Linked DNA regions of Homo sapiens: region 1 is linked to region 2. A link means that fine-mapping ties the variant in region 2 to the expression of a gene that starts in the linked region. Tissue or cell type: whole blood. Region 2 holds a variant in brackets; the other region holds the start of a gene. All regions are shown on one strand. Distances are from middle to middle.

Region 1 (8,055 bases), 22 kb before region 2:
CGATCTCAGCTCACTGCAACCTCCCAGGTTCAAGGAATTCTTGTGCCTCAGCTTCGCAAGTATCTGGGATTACAGGTGCATACCACCACACCTGGCTAATTTTTGTATTTTTAGTAGAGATGGGGTTTCACCATGTTGAGCAGGCTGGTCTCAAACTCCTGACCTCAAGTGATCTACCCGTCTTGGCCTCCCAAAATGCTGGGATTGTAGGCTTGAGCCACCCCGCCCAGCCTGCTTCTGTGCTTTCCATCCTTTGAAGGCAGGGACTTGCTCTGATGTGGGCTCTTGTGATGGAGACACGTGGGGGCCTTGGCCAACCACATCCTTGCTCAGAGTCTCAGATTTCTCATCTGTAAAACAGGAAGAATAGAATTCAACTCTGAGGTCTGTGGGAATATTAAAGGCGACAATGACAACCATGGTCCTCTGTGCCCCCCTCCCCTGAGGTTCCCATGCCCGGAAGGGACATGCAGGATCTGACTGGAGTCACAGGGGCTGAGGCTGGGGCCACGCCTCAGTTTGTTTCCTGAACCTTCTACAATCCTCCTCCAAGAAAGAATTGCATGTCCTCCCCCATATCTCTCCTCCAAGTTTGCAAGGATGCCCATCTCCCCAGCTCCTATTCCCTCGCCCCAGCCCTCCCTCACCAACGTTTCCAGTGTTCCAGGGGTTTTCTTAGGAAGGAGCTGAGGTGTTAAATCCTTAGAGGTCGGCATGGCTTAGGTGATTATAGCTGAGCTTTACCTGCCCTTCTCAGGGGTTCCTCAAGTCTCTCAAAGCAACACATTTGCTCATGGTGGGGAATGGGTGGGAACGGCTGCCACAGGCATTTCCTCCAAGTTTCCCGTGTTGGTCCTCCTTCCTTTCACCATCTTTAGGTTCCTCCTACCGTACCTCCTACCCTGATCCCCAGTTTGGGCCAGGCCCTTCACGCATAGACACAGCTCCTGAGTCTACCTTATCACGCCCTGCTCCCCAGAACTCAGAGGGACAGCCTAGAGCCTTTGTTACAAGCACAGCCTGGCTCGCCTCTCCAAACCCCCATACTCACTGTGCAATGTTGGGCATATTCATTCATTTATTTGATGCATATTTATTGAATACTTATTGTGTAACAGTTACTGTTTTAGGGCTTGGGGATATATTATTAGTGAAGTAACTAAATAAAATCCATTGCCGTGGTGGAGCTTACATTCTGGTGGGGGAGAGAGACACAAAACACAACAAAGAAATGAAATATGTAGTGGAGATAAGTGCTAAGGAGAAAAGTTCAGCAGAAAAGGTGGTAGGGAACATGTGGTAGGGGATTAATTTTGCAGACACACTTGTTCAAGATCATCCAGAAAGCAGTGAAGTCAGAATTTGCACCTAAATCAAATCTATTTTGTCTTTAAAAGTGACTCCTGACAGCACAGACATGTCCCTAAATGAATGCAGTAAATGCGATGTGAGTTTTATTTCAGTAATAATTCATCTCAGGCTGGGCGTGGTGGCTCACGCCTGTAATCCAAACACTTTGGGTGGTCAAGGCAGGTGGATCACCTGAGGTCAGGGGTTCGAGACCCGCCTGGCCAACATGGCGAAACCCTGTCTCTACTAAAAATACAAAAATTAGCCAGGCATGATGGCGCATGCCTGTAATCCCAGCAACTCAGGAGGCTGAGGCAGGGGAATCGCTTGAACCCAGGAAGCAGAGGTTGCAGTGAGCTGAGATCGTGCCACTGCACTCTAGCCTGGGCGACAGAGTAAAACTCTGTCTCAAAAATAAATATAATAGGCTGGGCGCAGTGGTTCATACCTGTAATCCCAGCACTTTGGGAGGCTCAGGCGGGTGGATTACTTGAGGTCCAGAGTTCGAGACCAGCCTGGCCAACATGGTGAAACCCCGTCTCTACTAAAAATATGAAAAAATTAGCCGGGCGTGGTGGCAGGCGCCGGTAATCCCAGCTACTCGGGAGGGTGAGGGAGGAAAATCACTTGAACCCGGGAGGCAGAGGTTGTGGTGAGCTGAGATCGCGTCACTGCACTCCGGCCTGGGCGACAGAGAGAGACTCCGTCTCAAAAATAAAATAAAATAAAAAAATATATATAATTCATTTCAGTAGTAAAAGACATAAACAAAAAGCTATAAGTATACACTACGTTACAGCTTTTGTTGAGGAATGCAATAAACATACATATCACTTCCCTGTATAATCTCAATGGCCTTTGGGAGAGAATTTAGAAAAGCATCCCAGTCGCTGAATGGTTGAGTTTAGGGGAAAAACTGACCCAGCACAGCCCCCTCATCTCCTGGATGAGGTTACTGCGGTTCCGCAAGGTGAATCGAGGTCAGTCGCCAAGGCAGAACCGGATTCGCCAGATTCCCTAGTCTCAGTGGAGCTTTAACCCTCCCAGGCACAGGACCGCTGGAGAGGTCGCCACGGGCCGGTTTCCCAGCCGGCCGCGAGGGGGCGACAGAGTGCAATGGACCCAGGTGAGTCGGGGACCAGGCGCCGCCAGGTCGTGACGCCACAAGGTGAGGGAGGTCTTTGATGGAGGGAGATACAGGAGAAAAGGCGCCGAGCTTAGGAAGTCTGTTCGTACTGTCCTCCCCGATTCCAGTCTGGCTCCCACTGCTATCTTCCTCCCACTGCTGGACCCTTCTAAAACAAAAGCCTGACTTTGCTACCATCCGTAAAACTGTAACGACACCTCCAACGTTGCTTACAGGGAAAAAAAAAAAAAAGGGCAGCAAAACATGGGACCTGGGTGATCTTGCCCCAGCCTAATTCCAAGATATCTCCTGCAAATAGATATCTATTTGCAGATATCTGGGAGCCGTATTGAAATACTTCCAACTCCCTGGACTCATCCTACTTTTTTTTTTTTTTTTTTTTTTGAGACTGAGTCTCGCTATGCCGCCCAGGCTGGAGTGCAGTGACGCAATCTCGGCTCACTGCAACCTTCACCTCCCGGGTTCAAGCGATTCTTCTGCCTCAGCCTTCTAAGTAGCTGGCACTAAAGGCGCGCCCAGATAATTTTTTTTTTTTTTTTTTTTTAGTAGAGACGGGGTTTCACCGTGTTAGGATGGTTTCGATCTCCTGACCTCGTGATCCGCCCTCCTCGGCCTTCATCCTACTTTTTCTCCCTGAATATCTTTTCGCACCAGCTCTACGTGGAGAAATCCGACTGTCTTTGAGCGAAGTACAGTATCACTTTCTCTTGAAACCTCCCCTGACACGACCCCTCCCCTGACACGACCCCTCCCCTGACAACACCCCCACCCACCCCACCCCAGTTTGGGGGAGGAGCCCCCTCCTTTGTTCCCACTACCCCGTGGGCTTCCCCTATCACACTGTAATAAATATCTGGCCTTGTCTATCTCCTTCTGTGCCCATCACAGAGCAAAGCAAATACAAAGAGTTCATTAAACGTTGGCTGGATGAATGGAGGAGACGGCACAGGGTTCAAGCTCTGCTACTTGTGCGGCCTCAGGCCGACTAATTATCTGGTGGGTTTGTTGTAAGGAGTCAGAACTAAATGGATTAATTACAAATAGTGCTTAGGACAATGCCCAGAATACTGTAAGCACTCAAGAAACTGATTTATTTTCGTCATTTTCACAGCGGCCAAGGTACATGAGGATGTAGCTTATCGCCCTTTTAAGGGACTCTCCCACGTTCGACTCTAAGCGGAAGTACCCGCTCAGGGCTCCGGAAGTGGCCTCAGAGCCCCTCAGCAACATGCCCGCAGAGAATTCTTCCGGAGGCGGTCACAGACATCTCCGTGACGCAGAACGAGTTAGAGCGTCCCTTGGGGTTTCCATGGTGCTGCCCTTAGCCTGCAGTATCTCCACTTCCTCTCCCGCCTGAGCGCCGGGAACGGAAAAGCAGGCGGCCGGTCCCAGCTGCGACGTAGACGCCGCGTGGGGGTGGGGTTGGGCGAGTAGGTGACGCTCTAGGCGAGCTCGTTGGCCTCTCTATGGTGCCGAGCGCGCCCGTTCGGACGTTGCCCCTTTAATCGGCAGAGGGCGGTGCCCAGGAGGTCCCGCGAGAGCTGCGGGGGGCGGGGGGGCGGTGCCGAGGCTGGGGGCCGGTGGCGGATGGAGCCCGCGATGGAGCCGGAGACTCTGGAGGCGCGAATCAGTGAGTGTCCGGGAGGGGCGCGGGCCGGACCGGAACCGGAACCGGGGGCACGAGGCGGGCCCCTTCCCGGCGGGGGCGGGGTACGGGTCGCCCCCTCCTCACGCCCCGCCCCCGGCCCGGGAGGGGCGGTGTCCTCAGTCGGCCCCTCAGACCCTGGAGCGATGGAGGACCCCGGCCCCGGCGCGGTCCAGCGGTGGGAGCGGGCGCCGCCCACCTGTCGGATCCCTGGGCCATGACCCCTGGGACGGCGAGTGAGCTGCGCCGGGAACCCCCGGGACGGAGAGAGCAGCCTCCAACCCCCAAGGCTCACATTGCTTCACGGAGTAGCGGCCCGGGGAAGGAGCACGCGAGCGGTTCCCCGGGGTTGCATCTCACACCCGGGAGGGAGGGACCCTACTATTTTCAGGCCCCGAATCCTCCACTCTCTGGCCCTGCATGGCGTTCCTGGAGCCCGCAAGTAGTCACATTTGCTCATTACCCCGTCCTGGAAGGGAGGACCCACTGCCCCATTTGATTCCTCCCGCCGCTCCTAGTCTCTAGCCACATAGTGAGAAACCCCCGCACCCTACAGGCTTGGGAGAGTCTTAGACTCCAGAAGTATTAATAATTCCAAGCTCCCTGTCACTCCCTTCAGCCTAACCCCTCAGTCTCCAAGATGCCTTTCCCAGCTCTTGCTGAACTTCCTTCAAAGGCTTCTACACCCCTTTTTTTCTTGTTTCTCCTCAGACGTAGCTTCCTATTGCTTAGGCTTCCTAGCCCGCAAACCCTCCACCTGAGCTCCTTAACCCACAGCCCTGATGATCCCCTGCTCTCACAGCCCCGCTCCTGGACTCTGCCTCTGAAAGCCGTGGCTGGCTTCTCCCTGGTCTAGTGAGGGTTCTCTCCCAAGGCTTTAACTGCTGTTGGGACCCCGTCGTTGCCAGGGCCTCAGGGAACCCTCTTGGACCCGGGCACACCGGCAACTGTCTAGCGTGGTTTGGGGTCATGGCCGGCCCCTTTTAAGCCAGGCTTGAGCAGAGTTGAACCATGAGGTTGGCCCCAGAACCAAACCTCTAGGGATGTTTCAGAGTCATCCTAGCCACCAGAGGGGCAGGGGGTGGAAAAGGGGCACTCAGCAGCCCTTGACCGTTGTGAACGCCGGAAGTGTCCGCCTGGGTCTCAGCAGCAACTGGGCTGGGGGGATGGGTGGGCCCCTGGCTAACTGATCTCAGACACAGGTCTTGAGCTGTGGGTCATACAAAACATTCTCAGGTTTAGAAACAGTGGGGGTTTTCTGAGAGTCCAGAGAGTCTAAAACCAGGCAGAAGTTAGAGATACCTGGGTTTGGCTGGGCCCTGACACACTGGGGCTGGGATTTTCTCCTTTCCTTCCCCCTTTGTGTCCTAGCAGAATTGTAAGATCTTTCCTCTTCCCTTGTGGAGGCTGGAGGTAAAGGATAGCTTCTTCTTTTTTTTTTTGAGACGGGTTTTCACTCTTGTCACCCAGGCTGGAGTGCAGTGGCACAATCTCAGCTCTCTGCAACCTCCACCTCCCGGGTTCAAGTGATTCTCCTGTCTCAGCCTCCCGAGTAGCTGGAATTACAGGTGCGCCACCACGCCCAGCTATTTTTGTATTTTTAGTACAGGTGGGCTTTCACCATGTTGGCCAGGCTGATCTCGAACTCCTGACCTCAGGTGATCCGCCTATATAGGCCTCTCAAAGTGTTGGGATTACAGGCGTTAGCCACTCATCCGCCCACGTCGGCCTCTCAAAGTGTTGGGATTACAGGCGTGAGCCACCGCGCCCGGCCTAGTGAGGTAAATGATGTTATTGTCAGCACTATAGAGTGGCAGGGTGGAGTCTTACCCTGTTGTGAAACACCTCCCTCCCTCTCTAGGTGTTCTCCCCAACTGCCTGCTAGGGAGGGTACTCCCCTCAGGTAGAATTAAGAGGGCTGAGGGTCAGGGGCCATGGGCCAAGGAGGTCAGTCAGATCTCCTTGGATCTGGAGGCCCTGGCTTTCAGCCAGAGGCAGGGGGAGAAAGATGATGTCTCATGATGCCAGCGCTTCCTCTTCACTGGCGTCTGACCCAGGAGCAGTCCAGAATCAGCTTCTCTGACCTCACTCCAACTCACGTGTCTTTGACACTTTAAGGGACTTCCTGTTTTAGGGTCTTCTGGCTGGGTGTCATTGAATGGGCAGTGATTCTCTAACTTTAGACTGATGTTCCCCAGCCTTTGTTTGGGGACTCGGAGGCAGAGTAGACAGTTACCCTTACCCCTGGGTTGGGGAGGGTCATATTCCTGGTATCCCCAGGAGGTCAACAGGGGCTTCATTTTTCTGAGGGACTAGAGGGTCTTGTGGAGCTCCTGGGACAGAGATCTAGATCCAGAGAGAACATTCGTCCTTCCGATCTCAGCTCAGCTCTGAGAGCCCTCCCAGAGAGCAGCTCCCGAGGGCTCCAGAGCCCTCCGAAAGCCCTCCCAGAGAGCAGCCCCCACCTCCCAGGCTGTCTGCACTTCTCCTTGCTATGCTTTGCTCTGTAACATTTTGCAACAGTCTGCAGTACACGGGGTTTGTTAATCTGAGTATTCATTGTTTCTCTTGCTGGGCAGTGAACTTGAGGAGGGCAGGGATTTTGTCTGTTCACTGCTGGAGCCCCAGCACCCAGAATACTTAAATCTGAGTTGGATGAATGGCGGCCAGCCACTGGGATTCCAGGGCTTTGGGCCCCCTGCCATAACATATGGCCCAGGGCAGGCGCCACATGCTGGGTCAGTCCCCAGCCTCCTGTCCACAGATCCTTCTCTGTTCTACCTCCTGGGCTGTGTCCTTCCACACCCTCAGCTCGGTGCTCAGGCGTGGGCAGAACTGGCTGGGAAGGGGTGGTCCTTAGAGGTGGGCTGTGGAGAAATGAAGATCGAGCTCTGGCTGCCGCCATGGCCTTCCCATGCAAAAAGTATTTTGTCATCCAAAATCAATATTTTGGTCAGGCACAGTGGCTCATGCCTGTAATCCCAGCACTTTGGGTGGCCGAGGTGGGTGGATCATTTGAGGTCAGGAGTTTGAGACCAGCCTGACCAACATGGTGAAATTCCATCTCTACCAAAAATACAAAAAAATTAGCTGGGCATGGTGGTGGACGCCTGTGATCCCAGCTACTCTCAGGAGGCTGAAGCAGGAGAATCGTTTGAACCCAGGAAGCTGAGATTGCAGTGAGCCGAGATCTCGCCACTGCACTCCAGCCTGGGCAACAAAGCAAGACTCTTTCTCAAAAAAAAATAAAAATAAAAAAATACAGGCCGGACGCAGTGGCTCACACCTGTAATTCCAGTACTTTGGGAGGCCGAGGCAGGTGGATCACGAGGTTAGGAGATCAAGACCATCCTGGCTAACACAGTGAAACCCCGTCTCTACTAAAAATACAAAAAAAAAAAAAATTAGCCGGGCGTGGTGGCGGGCACCTGTAGTCCCAGCTACTCGGGAGGCTGAGGCAGGAGAATGGCGTGAACCTGGGAGGCAGAGTTTGCAGTCAGCCGAGATCACACCACTGCACTCCAGCCTGGGCGATAGAGCGAGACTCCGTCTCAAAAAAAAAAAAAAATACAGCCGGGCACGGTGGCTCACACCTGTAATCCCAGCACTTTGGGAGGCCAAGGTGGGCGGATCACAAGGTCAGGAGATTGAGACCATCCTGGCTAACATGGTGAAACCCTGTCTCTACTAAAAATACAAAAAAAAATTAGCCGGGCGTGGTGGCGGGTGCCTGTAGTCCCAGCTACTCGGGAGGCTGAGGAAGGAGAATGGCATGAACCTGGGAGGCGGAGCTTGCAGTGAGCCGAGATCGTGCCACTGCACTCCAGCCTGGGCAACAGCGTGAGACTCGTCTCAAAAAAAAAAAAAAATCCATATTTCATTCCAGCTTTACAAGATGGGGAAATGGAGGTTC
Region 2 (8,047 bases):
GGGCTCTAGGACTTGAGCTGGGCTCTGATCCTGAAGCCACACTCTGAGCAGCTGGGCTGCTCTGACTCGTTGTTCATAAGCAAGGAAAAGGAAATGAGGACCCGGAGTGTGGAGGGAGAGCTGAAGGGGAAGGAGAGCTGAGGGGAAAGGAGGCCCAGTTGTGAGCTCCCTTTGTGAACCCAGCAGCCAGCACCCTCCCTGAAGCTGCTTACGAGCCCCATGCAGCCGCCCCCTCTTCATTCAGAGCCAAGGGTGACCGCAGGGAGAGGACCTTTACCCCATTCTACAGAGAAGTAAAGGACGGTCAAGGGACAGGAACGTTCATACAAGGTTTATCTTCCCCTGTGGAGCCAGCCCTGGGTGGCAGCTACCTGAGGGGCAGTGGGTGGGGAAGTACTGCAGGGCCACCAGCCCCCAGCCAGCAGCTGCAGCACCACCTCCACAAGAGAAGCGAGATGCAGCCGCACTTCCTGTCCCCGCACTGCACTGGCATAGTTCTGAGCCACCAGCTTCCTTCTGTTTTCCTCTCAGAGGCAAAGCATGGGGGCACAGGAGCCGGAAGTGCCAGGGCAGCCTGCAGCCTGGGCCTGGGGAATGGAGGAGGCCCTGGGGCCACACAGGGGGCTGGTCCTCACTCTTCACGGCAGGGGTGGGAGACAGGTTCCTGTCCCTCAAGGAGGGTGTTCAGGCAGCCTTAACCTCCCCCGTCTCAAGTGATCCTCCCATCTCAGGCTCCTGAGTAGTTGGGACTACAGGTGTGTGCCACCACACCCGGTTAATTAGTTTATTTTTAGTAGACACACGGTTTCACCTGTGTTGGCCAGGCCGGTATTGAACTCCTGGCCTCAAGTGATCCACCCACCCCAGCTTCCTAAAATGCTGGGATGACAGGCATGAGCCACTGCGCCCACCTCTTTTTGGTTTTGAGATGGGGGTCTCACTATATTGCTCAGGCTGGTCTCAAACTTCTGGCTTCAACTAATCCTCCCATCTCAGCCTCCCAAGTAGATGGGACCACAGGCATTGGCTAATTTTTTTTCCTTTTATTCTTTAGGGGTAGAGTCTCTATGCTGCCAGGGCTTATCTCAAACCCCAGCTTCAGCCTCCCAAATAGCTGGGATTACAGACATTAGCCACTGCACCTGGCTGGTGTCTCCATTTTACAGATGAGGCTGTCACCCCCCAATATCACACAGCCAAGTGGCAGAGTTGTGTTCAAATGCTGGCAGTCAGGCCATGCTCTGTCTGAGTCCAGACTCTGCCACTTTCTAGCTGTGTGTTCTCGGGCAGGTTATTTACCAACTTTGAGTCCATTTTCTTATCCCTAAAAGAGGGCTGAGAAGCTCACCCCTACCTTTGAAGGTTGTTTGAGGATTAAGCAAGACCAGCATCTGAAGGGCCTGAAGCATCTAGGGCATCATCAGTGCACTTTATCTCTGGCCTCTAAGAAGTGCATCTAGAAGGGACCCACTGTCACAGCTTCCTGGTACCCTTGCCTTTGCCTGTCAGGTAGCACTTCGGTTTGGACCTCACTTTTTCAGGATTTGTTGGAAACAAGATCCCTTATCTTCTCTAGGTCAGATTTGGGGTGAACTTGGCTGACAGTATTCCAGGGCAGGCAGAGGTCAGGCTGGCTGGTGACCTGCTGCCTCCTTCCCATCGGCAGCTAGTTCTAGGGCCATCCACAGGGATCCCCAGCCCTCCATAGTACCAGTGAGCCTCACTGGCATGTGCCAGGGCCAAGAGGGCCTTCAGCGTCGCCTCCAGTCCAGCCCTGTCCTCGTATTCTTGGGGACACTGTGGCTCAGCCAGCACAGTGCCTAGCCCACAGTCACCCAGCAGGCGTCCCTCGAGTGGGCCAGTGGCAGGCACAGAGCTGCTCTCCCCTTGCCTGGATGCGTGAGGAAAGGAACCTCTTCTCCCTGCAGCCCAGCCCTGCAGGCTCTCTGCTGCCAGATGACGAGTGAAGATGAAAGTCCTGATGTCTATTGTCTGTGTGCACAGAGCTTTGGAGTGGCCTGGCCAGGAAGAGGGGAAGCGTGTGTGGGGTCAGCACAAGGGGTTGCCGGGATCTTGGTTACTGGTTCTGCTCTGCTGCTGGTTCCCTCTGAAAATGTGGGTTTCTCCCCTCCGTGCTGAGCCTCAGAAAGGGGTAGGGAGCCCCATGCCAGCACACATGGCCCCTCGGCTCTCTGGCCTCTGCAGGGTCAGCCCAGCTCCTTCACCTCTCTCCTGCTTTCCCCTCAGGCCTCAGTGACCCCACACCCCCTTCAGGCCCAAGCCTGGATGGTACCGGATGGAACAGCTTCCAGGTAGGAGGGGACCACAAACTAGTCTGGCCTGTCCCAGTCCCAGGGTCAGGGCAGCTGGGACAAGTGGCCTGGAGAAACTAAAAGGATGGATGGGCTCTACTCAAGAGCCCAGGGCCAGGGGGTGGCCCAGGGGCCTGGAGACACCCACCCAGGGTACAGGGCCTCCCCTTACCTCCAGCTGTATCTTCCCCAAGTCTCAGCCTTGGGGCTGCAGCCCAGCCTTTGGGATTGGGATTGAGATGGGCAATCCCTCTTCCTTTCCCTTGAGGGTGACAGAGGTCCCTGGATTGTAGAACCCCCAACCAGACCCAGCCACCCTGCATCATGGACATGGGTGGTCTGGGGTCCCCACCTCTGTGGCTGCTTTCCCAGATGTCATTTGCAAGGAGGACACTGAGCCTCAGGGCAGGATCAGGTGATGCTGACACCTCTCTAGACAGCCCCACCCCACCTGCATCCTTTTCCCCACAGTCGTCGGATGCCACTGAGCCCCCAGCCCCTGCTCTGGCCCAGGCCCCCAGTATGGAAAGCCGACCCCCAGCGCAGACATCCCTGCCAGCAAGCAGCGGTCTGGACGACCTAGACCTCCTGGGGAAGACCCTCCTGCAGCAGTCGCTGCCCCCGGAATCCCAGCAAGTGCGGTGGTGAGGGCCCACCATGGCTGGCATGGGGTGGGGAGCACTCCCTGTTCCCACAAACCAGCAACTTCTCCTGGGCTTGTCCAGGCCCAGCAGGGAGAGGCTCGTTGCTGTCTTGTTTTGTAAGCAGCAGATGCCAAGCAGTGCACCTGCCTCTGGAAACACAACAGTGCCCAAGGCAGACCTGGGCCCACTGGCCTGGCCTCCCCCCAGGTGTTCCCAGCTCCCTTGAGAAAGGTCCAGAGGGCCGGCAGAGGGGAGGACACTGGGCTGGAGTGAATAGGTGGGGTGCAGGGTGGAGGGAGAACACGAGCTGCTCCTTCTAAAGGTAAGACCCAAGGCCAGAGAGATAGCCACACGTGCCAGCCTTTCCTGTGCCCCTGATCTCTCCATCACCAAAGAATCACTTTTTCTTTTTTTGAGAGGGAGTCTCACCCTGTCACCCAGGCTGGAGTACAGTGGCATGATCTCGGCTCACTGCAACCTCCATCTCCCAAACTCAAGCGATTCTCCTACGTCAGGCTCCTGAGTAGCTGGGACCACAGGTGTGCGCTACCACGCCCAGCTAGTTTTTTGTATTTTTTATACAGACCGGGTTTCGCCATGTTGCCCAGGCTGGTCTCAAACTCCTGAGCTCAAGCGATCTGCCCGCCTCAGCCTCCCAAAGTGTTGGAATTACAGGGGTGAGCTACCACGCTGGCCAAGAATCACTTCTTAATGCACTGTCCCCCGATTAAGGGAGAAGCAGCAGCCAACCCCCCGGCTCACACTCCGGGACCTGCAGAATAAGAGCAGCAGCTGCAGCTCCCCCAGCTCCAGCGCCACCAGCCTTCTCCACACCGTGTCCCCAGAGCCCCCCAGGCCTCCGCAGCAGCCCGTACCAACCGAGCTCTCACTGGCCAGCATCACTGTGCCCCTGGAGTCCATCAAACCCAGTGAGTAGGGCTGGGGCAGGTGCAGGCTGGGTTGGGTCAGCTTGCTGCCCTGTCAGGAGCTCTGTCTGGGGAAGCTAGTGGGAAAGCAGGGCTCCCCTGGCTCTGCCACTGGCCAACCAGAGGGGAGCTCTGAACAAGGCCCTCCCCTTCCCAGGAGTCAGTTTCCTTATCTGCCCCAGAGCAATCAGAGGACTGCTGTACAAACTCCAGGCTTATATAAGCAAGAAGACCTCTAGGGAGTAGGCTCTGGGCCCCTTCCATCCCCAGGAAGGCAGGGCCCAGGACACAGAGAGGTTTGGGGTCTCCCCCAGATTACAGAACTGAACCATGATAAAGACCCAGATCCAAGGCTGGGTTTTTCCAGCCCAGGAGCAGTAAGGGGACCATGGCCCAGCCCCGGGCCCCAAGCAGACACATGAGGCCTGGTGGTCCTCAGCATTGCCCTCTATGAGCTCCCTGTGACCAAAGACACTACCCCCACAGTGTCTCCCAGCAGTGGGCAGAGCTGCCCCTCTCACCAGTAGGAGAACCCTGAGCTCAGAGAAGGGGAGTGACTGCCGCAAGGTCACACAGCGTGAGACTCACCCTCACCAAGTCCCTCACCCCAGCACTCCAGGCAGCAGCCACACAGCATCGGGGGAAGCTGGGCTGTGACTCGGCTCTGGGGTGGGTGTCCTGCCTCCACTATCAGACTGGGGGTTCACCTGCCCTCTCTGGGCACCGCTCTGTGCCCCTGCCTGCACTGCCACCCAGGGTCCAGGTAAGGCCCCAAAGGAGGACTTTGCTCTTGTTGCCAGTACAGCAGCCAGCTCCTGAGGCCAGCCGGGTGGGGGCTGGGGGCTGAGCGGATGTGCTGCAGCTCAGCTGTCCCATCGCCCTCCCACCTTCTCCCACAGGCAACATCCTGCC[C/T]GTGACTGTGTATGACCAGCACGGCTTCCGCATCCTCTTCCATTTTGCCCGGGACCCACTGCCAGGGCGCTCCGACGTGCTGGTGGTGGTGGTTTCCATGCTGAGCACCGCCCCCCAGCCCATCCGCAACATCGTGTTCCAGTCAGCTGTCCCCAAGGTGACAAGCCAGTCGGACAGGGCATGCCTCCCTCCTCTCAAGGCAGGGTGACATGGAGCTGGGTGGGGAGCCACCTGTCAGGGGGCAGGTCTCCCTCCCTTGCTGGGTGGTTGGTGTAGAAGGGACCAGAAGGACTGAGCCCCAGGATCCCCGGAGGGGAGCTGGCAGGCTGGGCCTGGTTCCTCAGAGCAGGACAAGCAGCCAGGGCTAGCTGTGCCCATCCTGCCATCTGCCCACAGGTTATGAAGGTGAAGCTGCAGCCACCCTCGGGCACGGAGCTGCCAGCTTTTAACCCCATCGTCCACCCCTCAGCAATCACCCAGGTCCTGCTGCTTGCCAACCCCCAGAAGGTAAGGGGCCCCCAGGCAGTGCTGCAGGGTGGGGACGGCCACTTCTCCTCCTCTGACCCCTCTGCCTTTGCCATCTCTTCCCCAGGAGAAGGTTCGCCTCCGCTACAAGCTCACCTTCACCATGGGTGACCAGACCTACAACGAGATGGGGGATGTGGACCAGTTCCCCCCACCTGAAACCTGGGGTAGCCTCTAGAACAGAGGGGCTGGGGAGAGGAAGGGGCAGAGGGACCGGTCACTGTCCAGCCTGGAGGGAGGCATTGGTGGCCAAGGACACCCTTTGTTGCCCATGGCCATTCACCCCCAGGCCTGGTGCTTCTCCCCACACCCCTGTAGGCCTCAAGTGACTCTTCCCCCTCCTGCTCCGGCCCCGCCCCTGCTGAGCCAAACCCAGTAGGAGGCTGGGCCTGGGTTTGTGCCGCTGGGGTCTCCATCACCGGGACCTGGAGAGGGAGGGGCTGTGTAGCCTTGGAAGAACTTGGGTCATGGGGAGGAAGCACAGCTGTTGGGGAAGGGCCAGGACCTCAGGCCCAGCCCCAACCCCAGCTGGGGTGGGGTCTTCCCCACCTGTCTCTTATGCCTTATGGGAAGGCCCAGCCATAACTCGGGGGCCATGCTGGAGCTGGGGACCAGCTTAGGCCTCCTCCATAGGAACCCAGTGACTGGGGGGTGACGCCTACACCCCCAGCTATTTGCACTCTGGTGTGTGGTTTGACTCTGCTTTTCTTCCGGATTGGCCCTGTGGTCACAGCCTCAGGGGGCCAGGCTGGGGGAACCTCACCTGGCCCGTACTCCTGGGGGTTTCCCTTTGCCATTGGGCCCCCTGAGGGACTGTGGGGGCTCAAGGGTAATGCCAGAGGCCCATGGCCCCAGCGAGGGGCTGTGGGGCACCTAGAGTTCTCGGTGTGTCTCCTTCATTCATTGGCCTCTGCTGGGGCCTCCTATGGGTGTCTTACGTCTGTCCATCCATCTGTCCGTGGTCAGAAGTGGGGTCAGTGTGTGAGTGAGAGCAGGAGTATTTATGAAAATAAAACGTCGTTTTTCCTGGACCAGCTGCTCTCGTGGCCCTTTGGAGGTTGAGGGAGATGGGAGGGGTTGAGTCCATGTTCCCTAGGGCTGCCCTGTAGACCTCTCCACTTCCGTCTTTGGAGGTCAGGCCGTGGGCCCCCTCCCCACCACCCCCCGGGCCCTGCACCGGAAAAGGCCCTGCAAAGGGGCCTGTGGCCAGTGCTGAGTCACCAGAGAGGGCGCTGGGCTGTGGCGGACCAGGACCGTCCCAGCTGGAAGTGGGCGACCGCCAGGGCCTGGCAGGAGCCCCAGCTGCTACAGACACCGAGGGGGAGGCCCCTGGCTGCTCACGACTTCCTCCTGCTGTGCTCAGCCCTCCACACAACCTCGATGCTGCAGCACCCCAGAGGGAAGTCCAAGCCCAGCTTCTCCCTCCCCCCAGACATCACTCCCTTGCCCAGCACCAATCGCAGTTTGTTTGGGAGCAGACCCAGGGACCCTGAGCTGGGCCCCTGCCACTCGCAGCGGCAGCTCTCCCCCACACAGTGCTATCAGTTTTCTCCAACCAGGAGGCTGGGGTCCAAGCTTGGGCGTGGCTTCGAGGCCACACAGCTGGGAGCGAGGGGGCGCTGGTCCAGGCAGATGGGCCCTGTTGTGTGGGAGGCCAGCCCTGCGTGTGGCTCTGCAGGAAAGTGTTCCCTGCTCAGATGAGTCCAGGGAGGCTGCGCACGGTTTCTCCTGAGTAGATGAGCCCATACAGACCCTGGGAAGTCCCTCATTTAAGAAGCCATTTTCACTTTGTCTAATCTAGTGTTTCCCAATCTGAACTTGGCCGCTGAACCCTTCTCCTTAGATATAGTTGTGACATGCTGGAGAATTGCCCAGCACACCCGCATCCCAGCGTGTGTGCTCTTTAACACTCATCAGCAAGCAAGGGGCCCCTCTCTGCTGGGCCCACACTGAAAGCGCAGGCTGAGAGCTCCTCCATGTCCGCCTTACTGCTGAGGGGACAAGAGGCATTAGCTGCACCCTGCGGGAGCCTCCTATCAGATCCCTACAGTGGGACTCCCACCCTGGCACAGCCCTCCAGACAGAGGCTGGCCCCTGGAGGCTTCCAGACACCCTGTCCCAGCCACGTGGCCTCGTTCCTGTTCCCCTTCCCTACCCTGCAGGACTCGCCTCCACACTTGTGATGTCTCCTGAAGATAACTCCGGTTGGAAGTTTCTTCTACCTGAAATGAAACCATAACCCCTGCAGCATCCACTTGGGGTGCCAGAGTCCCACCTCCAGCACAGTCTTCATTACTGGCCATGGCAGGGAGGAGTACAGGTTGGCATGGGGAACAGGTGGGACTGTGAGCTGGGAGTCTGGGGGCTGGTTCTGGCTGGGTCACTGGCTTGCTGTGTGATTTTGAGGAAGATGCTTTCCTTTCTGGAAAAGGGGAGAGGGACTCAATGAGCTATAAGGTCCCTCTGAGGAGTCCTTGGACAAAGGAGCCAGGCTGTCAGCTTTGGAGTGACCCAGGATATTCCGGGGACGGGAAGGTGGGGTCCCTTCAGCCTTTGGACCTTGTCCCTTGCCTTGTCCTTAACCCACCCATCCTGTCAGTCATGCCAGTGTTTCCTGAGCAGCCCCTGGGCCAGCCCCTGTCCTAAGAGTTCACAAGCTGGCAAGGACTTGGGAGCCAGTGTGGCACCCTGAGAGCAAAGACATAAGGTACCACAGAAGCCCTGCATC

Evidence for each region. PIP is the estimated chance that this variant, and not a neighbour inherited with it, causes the effect.
Region 1: GGA1 starts here. The variant in region 2 is fine-mapped to the expression of GGA1 in whole blood (TOPMed, PIP 0.91).

What each region holds. Positions count from the first base shown.
Region 1 is chr22:37,604,777-37,612,831 of GRCh38, forward strand. GGA1 (golgi associated, gamma adaptin ear containing, ARF binding protein 1) reads left to right here and starts at 4,058. Exons shown (of 17, transcript NM_013365.5): 1 at 4,058-4,127. The coding sequence starts at 4,085. RefSeq lists a cis regulatory region at 2,234-2,693, enhancers at 3,438-3,517, 3,668-3,837, 4,442-5,063, 4,778-4,887 and a silencer at 3,998-4,447.
Region 2 is chr22:37,627,215-37,635,261 of GRCh38, forward strand. It overlaps GGA1 (golgi associated, gamma adaptin ear containing, ARF binding protein 1), which reads left to right. Exons shown (of 17, transcript NM_013365.5): 12 at 2,248-2,312; 13 at 2,784-2,956; 14 at 3,689-3,885; 15 at 4,782-4,951; 16 at 5,191-5,301; 17 at 5,387-6,350. The coding sequence ends at 5,497. Among named protein-coding and RNA genes, the nearest start is that of SH3BP1, 8.4 kb to the right of the region's middle. RefSeq lists enhancers at 5,524-5,583, 5,764-5,823, 6,090-6,963, 6,184-6,343, 7,124-7,213. The variant C/T (reference allele first, on the strand shown) is at 4,795.